2 linked regions of the Homo sapiens genome follow. The protein of the gene in region 2 interacts with the protein of the main gene of each other region in a pairwise test. Each region holds a gene or a part of one and is shown on either strand. Other genes may lie near its edges.

Region 1 (3,671 bases), on a different chromosome or scaffold from region 2:
AAATTTTGATGGAAACGGGCATGACACACATGCCAAGAGCACTCCTTGCTCCCCAGGGCATTAAATCACCTTGTTATTTAGTGCCCTCTAGAATCCACTAATTTACATGTGGTCTCTTCTCATAGAAGCATCTCAAGTAAATCTGAATTTGTTTAGACAATTTTATGGGTATTTTAAAACCACAATTGAATTTCAGGCCTTTGTCGCAGTCCAGCCAAGATGCACTCCAATTAGAAATAATTGCTATTAATGCTGTTATGATGTGGAGGATGCCTGCAGTGCTCCTGGACCTTTGTTGTACTGAATCCCCGAAGAGTCTGAGCTTTATTCTTTAACTAAATAGACAGGACCCTAGAAGATACGCTTCTGGAATTGTAATATTACAGCAATATTGTGCTTCTCTCTTAATTAACCTTGTTAACCAAGGATTTGGAACATCAGTGGGTGACTCTGAGAGGGCCTTTGATCCTCTCAGTATACATCTACAGTGGAATAAGATGTCACTGTGAAATAAAACGCCTTTATTCTTTGGCATACACCAAATACCTTCATCATTCTTTGAGTAATGATTGACAGTCTCGTTTAATGAAATAATGTTTGTCAAATACTTAATTTGCTGCCGGGCACAGTAAATGTTAGTTATGATTGTTATAATATTATCATAAAACAAGTTTTTTTTTTTTAAGGTTTTCTGAATGGAAAGGAAATACAGATCAGGGCTGTCATGTTCGTGCAGGCCACTCAAGGTAAACCATAGTGGATTCCAGAGTTTACACCCCCTGAGACTGCTGCCCCTATGACAGCATTTTACCCCCAAGATAGTCAAATTCTCAATTCTTTAGACTTTTACCGGGTCTCCCAAGGTACCGCTCATCCCCTCCTTGCTCCCCACAAGAGGGAAGAGACAAAGGCTGCTGTTTCTCTTGCAAGGCTGCCCCCACCAGCCTGAGAAGGAGTTCCAGGGATATGGTAATTAACATATTTTTCTTAATCTTGCTTTTATAGTTAATCTCCAAAGCATGAAAGCACTTTGCCAGTTGATTAAACTGTAAGAATACAATAGATCCAAAGTGAGGGCAGCACTGATGAATATAAATGCATAAAATTGCCCATTCTGCAGGAAAATGCCTCAACCTGAATCCCAACTTGAAATACTAAGTTGAACACTTAACTTTAATTGCACGAATATATTTTTTGGATCAATAGATAGCAAAAAACCTAACTTGGTATAATTTCATCTTCAAAGTAAGAAGCAACCACTCTTTGATCTCTTCTAGGAAACAAAAGTGATTCTATTTAAGAGTTTGGTCTAGGATCACTGCCTATGAGGGGGCTTCAGGGAATGCCCGGTAAGGCTCTTGGGCACAATAGTGCTGGATGGGCCTTTAGCCAGACTGCCACTCGGTCTGCGTATCCAGGGCATTCAGAAGCATTTGTGTAGCTGTTTTGGAAAGAAGGGCACTGGAGGCGGGCCTTTTCTACATTAGGTGGTACAGGTTCAAAATGGCCAGAGAGGATAGCAAGGGGGTAGAAATCCAGAGCTGTGTGTCCTCTGGAGAGAGGGCATTCTGGCTGGATATCCACATGTCCTCTTCGCCCCTCAGCCCTGCTCCCCAAGGCAGGTCAACCACAGCCGCTGGCTCCATTTGAGCCACCTCCCCAACGACCAAAGCTCAGGGCAGCTCATGGCCATGGCTTATCACTTTCTTACATCTGTGGTAATGGAAATGACAAAAATGGGCTGTCTTTATTTTTGGAAAAAAAAAGAAAAAGAAAAAACCAAAACTCAACCAAATAGGTGATAGCAACATTATTTTCAAACACATTGATTGAAAATTCTAGTCCAGATAACAGAATAGGAGTGGTACTTGTGGTCTCCAGATATATTCCACTGTCAGACAAAAATACTTTTCTTCATTGAAGTACGCATTATGTAACACTGTGTATCAGATGACCTTAGCCATAGAGTTGGTCTTTAGAGCTTCTTCTTTTGGTCAACAAAGCCATCCATTGCATGAAGGATGCCCAAATAGTCAGCTATAAGCAGTCCTGTCTTGAGGGGCAAAAAGCTAAAGAGAACACAAGAATAAACTTTCTTTATTATCATTCATGAAAGCCTCTTTACCACCTCTACTGAAAAGCAGTGTCACCTCTTGTGGCAGATGAAGTCACTCACTCATGCACACACTATGCAGCCTGAGTGCTACCCGCCTCAGGGTCACTGGGCCTTGTTCACTATATCCGGGGACACTCGCCCAGGGCCTTGACAGGTCTTCTGGCTTAAGTTATTCAATTCACTTCTCATTTCGGTTTCCAAAGCATCACTCCACTGTACAATGACACAGAGGAAGCAGTGAAGTCTTGTCCTGTAGGCATGCGCTTTGGGGGCAGATGAGCCTGGCTGGAATCCTAGCTCTGTCATTTGCAGTGCCGCCTTAGGCAATCGACTCAGCTCATAGACCTCAGTTTCCTCAACTGTAAAATGAGGTCATCAGTCTGCCTTTCTGGCGCTACTGTGAGGATGAGATGCAATAGCTCCTCAAACCTTGGGCAAGACCCAACTAACACTGTCCATCTTCTCCATCCACACCTGCCCCTCTGCAAAGCCATATACATGCATGATCATCATCCCAACAGAGCACTCTGCTCCACTGGCCTTTGCATTCAATACTGCAGAGCAAGGAAACAAAGCAGGCACGGGAAACCTGAGACTCATCCTAAGGTGGGGGTAAAGGAAAGGACCCCATGCTCCTTGTTCCCCTGTTTGGGCACCCCAAGATCTCCAGGTGGTTCATCCCTCCCACAGCTTCAAGTCTCTGGTCAAGTACTACCTTCTTTATGAGACTCCCTCCACCCACCAAACACCATTCTTAAAATTAATTCTCACCGGCCGGGCGCAGTGGCTCACGCCTGTAATCCCAGCACTTTAGGAGGCTGAGGTGGGCAGATCACAAGGTCAGGAGTTTGAGACCAGCCTGGCCAACATGGTGAAACCCCATCTCTACTAAAAATACAAAAATTAGCCAGGTGTGGTGGTGCACGCCTGTAATCCTAGCTACTCAGGAGGCTGAGGCAGGAGAATCACTTGAACCCGGGAGGTGGGGGTTGCAGTGAGGCATGATTGCACCACTGCACTCCAGCCTAGGCAACAGAGCAAGAGTCCATCTCAAAAAAAAAAAAAAAAATTAAATCTCACTTAGATGTGGTGGCTCATGCTTGTAATCCCAGTGCTTTGGGAGGCTGAGGTGGGAGGATTGCTTGAAGCCAGGAATTTGAGACCAGCCTGGGCAACATAGCAAGACCCCATCTCTAAAAAAATAAAAATAAATTAGCTGTGCATAATGGTGCACAACTATAGTCCCAGCTATTTGGGAGGCTGAGGTGGGAGGATGGCTTGAGCCTGGGAGTTTGAGGCTGCTGTGGGCTATGATCAAGCCACTGCACTCTAGCCTGGGTGACAGAACAAGACCTTGTCTCCAAAAAAAATTAAAGAGTAAAATTAAAAAAAAAACAACAACGTAAATCTTGGCCGGGTGCAGTGGCCCATGCTTGTAATCCCAGCACTTTGGGAGGCTGAGGTGGGTGGATGACCTGAGGTCGAGAGTTCAAGACCAGCCTGGCCAATGTGGTGAAACCCCATCTCTACTAAAAATACAAAAATTAGCCAGGCA
Region 2 (2,757 bases):
GCTGGGATTTCATATTTTTTATACAAGTTACAAGACTTCTACTTAACACATTTTAGGAAATGCCCATCTGAGAACCTAAAGATTGTTTCCACCACATATTTCCATCAAAAGTCTCAAAGCTGCTAGTCTGTTTTCCTAGATTTAGATGGAGTCATCTCAAAACAGCCTCACATTTATAATATATATGGTATTTTTTGGTCTCAGGCTTTATGGTTTTAAACATCATTTGCCTCGCGGTCAGGTCACTTAGAGCAGTATTTTCCTTCTCTGCATTATCTGTCCATTAGTGGGCAGAGAAATCAACTTGGTGGTTACAACCTAAATGTTTTTAAAAACTGAAATAAAACTATCATCATAGTAAGGATATGTATTACTTCACAAAAGTGTATGTGCAATGTTGTTTGTGTCCATATACAATCACACTGTGTGTGTGTGTGTGTGTGGTCACAACATAAAATACTTATTCCTATGAGTTGCAATAAAAAACAAGTGAAAGCCACTGAATTAAAGAGATGAATTTATTGGTAAATAGATAAAATTAACACCTATTTTAATATATCCAAACCCCTTCCTTATATATATTAGGTAAATTAAAAGAAAAAAATTATCAAAGCAATACTACAGCCAGCTACATCGCCAATTTACAAATGAGTTAGTAAGTACCATAAGTTTGTTTGAATATCAGGTGCTTCAGAGTTTTTCTCAAACAGTTACAAAAGAGATTAGGTTCCCAATCAGTTCACAAAAGCTAATTTAAAGAATGTAGCTTAACTACAGTACTGAGGTTGTCACACACTTAACTTTCGGTCTCTTGCTTATTTATTCATATCTGAGGTTCACTGTTTCTACTAGGATACATTCCGCCCACACCCACACCTTGGTCCCCACATCAAGCAGCTCCTCACAGCAGGAAGACATCCGCTATCAGACATGGTTTTCTGAAGTTGTGCTTAGGATTTCAGAGGAGGAAAAATTCAGAGGTTCTAATAGCCTTCGGTAACTGAGGTAGAATATGGGGCTCCCAAGAATATCTTCCATATGCCCCAAATCTGTTTCCCTCCCACCCCCATCCAGCTCTGTTCAAGGTCAAGTTTGAGAAAGATACGTGTTCTCAATGGTATATTTTTAAAATCCACATCAATTTTTAAGAGACTACCTGCTAAAGGAGAATAATGGCTCACTGCATCTTTTCTCAACCCCCTAAACTATTTTAAAAACACACTGGCAGGGACAGGTGCAATGGCTCACGCCTGTAATCCCAGCACTTTGGGAGGCCGAGGCGGGCAGATCACTTGAGGTCGGGAGTTTAAGACCAGCCTGACCAACATGGAGAAACCCCGTCTCCACTAAAAATACAAAATTAGCCAGGGGTGGTGGCACATGCCTGTAATCCCAGCTACTCGGGAGGCTGAGGCAGGAGAATCGCTTGAACCTGGGAGGTGGGGGTTGCAGTGAGCTGAGATAGCGCCATTGCACTCCAGCCTGGGCGACAAAAGTGAAACTCCGTCTCAAAAACAGGCTGGGTGAGGTGGCTCATGACTGTAATACCAGCACTTTGGGAGGCCGAGGCGGGTGGATCACCTGAGGTCAGCAGTTCAAGACCAGCCTGGCCAACATGGCGAAACCCCATCTCTACTAAAAGTACAAAAATTAGCAGGGTGTGGTGGTGGGCACCTGTAATCCCAGCTACGCAGGAGGCTGAGGCAGGAGAATCGCTTGAACCTGGGAGGCGGAGGTTGCAGTGAGCTGAGATCACACCATTGTACTCCAGCCTGGGCGACAAGAGACTCTGTCGCAAAAAAAAAAAAAAAAAACAAAAAAAAAAAACAAAAAAAAAACCACTGGCTTTAATGGTGATAATTTGCTACTAATAAAATCAATAGCTGTTTTTCAACTGAACACTTAAACTTTTAGATCCAAATAAACTGTTTGGATCTAAAAAACTATATTACTAACATGTTTCCTTATGCCAAGGGAGACATGTGAGTGCCTAGAGAAGTATGGCCTGTGGTCTCCCACATTCAATTCAGGAACTCAGGGTCAAGCAGAAGGCCATGCTATAGACTTCAACACTCTGCTCTTCCCAATTTCATTATGTCCTGCAAGTTTTAAGAGCCGTCCGGAAGAGTGTAGGTTAATGGAAAGCTCAGTGAGAACTGCTCTGAAGAAGCCCCTCAAAATAATACATTAAGCTCAGCATCATTCACGTGGGCGGAATACAAACTGACATTCCTAACAGGACTTACCTAGCATGGACTCGATCTTAACCATGGTACCAAACTCTCAAGTGAAGCACACTGATGCCTGGTGAAAGCCAGGCGTTTGGTATGATGCTGACCTAGTGAACCTCTGGCCTTTTTGGCTGTGCTCATTACCTGGTCCCAGCACTCACTGGCACAATGCCAGGAGCCCAGAGAAAGGAGCAGGGGCTGCGGGGGGGGGGGGGGGAGGGGGAAGGGGGGAGGGAGGGTGGGGAAAGGGGAGAAGGGGGGAGGGTGGGGGAAAGGGGGAGGGTGGGTGTTAGGGAGAGAGGGAGGGGGAGGGAGGGGGAGGGGGGGGAGGGAGGGAGGGGGGAGGGAGGGAGGGGGAGGGGAGAGGGAGGGAGGGGGAGTGGGAGGGGGGGGGGAGAGGTGTGGTACAACCTGCTCCCGCTTCAGTCATCACCCACCACATGGCCTCTGGCTGACCATCCAGTAGGCCCAGCATTTTCCATCCACACCACAGGCCCCATGTCCTAAACCAGGAGTTTTACAAGTC

Evidence for each region.
Region 1: the proteins of SENP2 (region 2) and SDR16C5 interact in binary tests that used the Homo sapiens proteins (3 or more experiments, as listed by UniProt).

What each region holds. Positions count from the first base shown.
Region 1 is NC_000008.11:56,299,505-56,303,175, forward strand, and holds the end of SDR16C5 (epidermal retinol dehydrogenase 2), read right to left. Parts: intron 2,070-3,671; coding exon 1,976-2,069; 3' UTR 501-1,975; downstream 1-500. UniProt on the Homo sapiens protein: Oxidoreductase with strong preference for NAD. Active in both the oxidative and reductive directions. Oxidizes all-trans-retinol in all-trans-retinaldehyde.
Region 2 is NC_000003.12:185,631,295-185,634,051, reverse strand, and holds the end of SENP2 (sentrin-specific protease 2), read right to left. Parts: 3' UTR 501-2,757; downstream 1-500. UniProt on the Homo sapiens protein: Protease that catalyzes two essential functions in the SUMO pathway.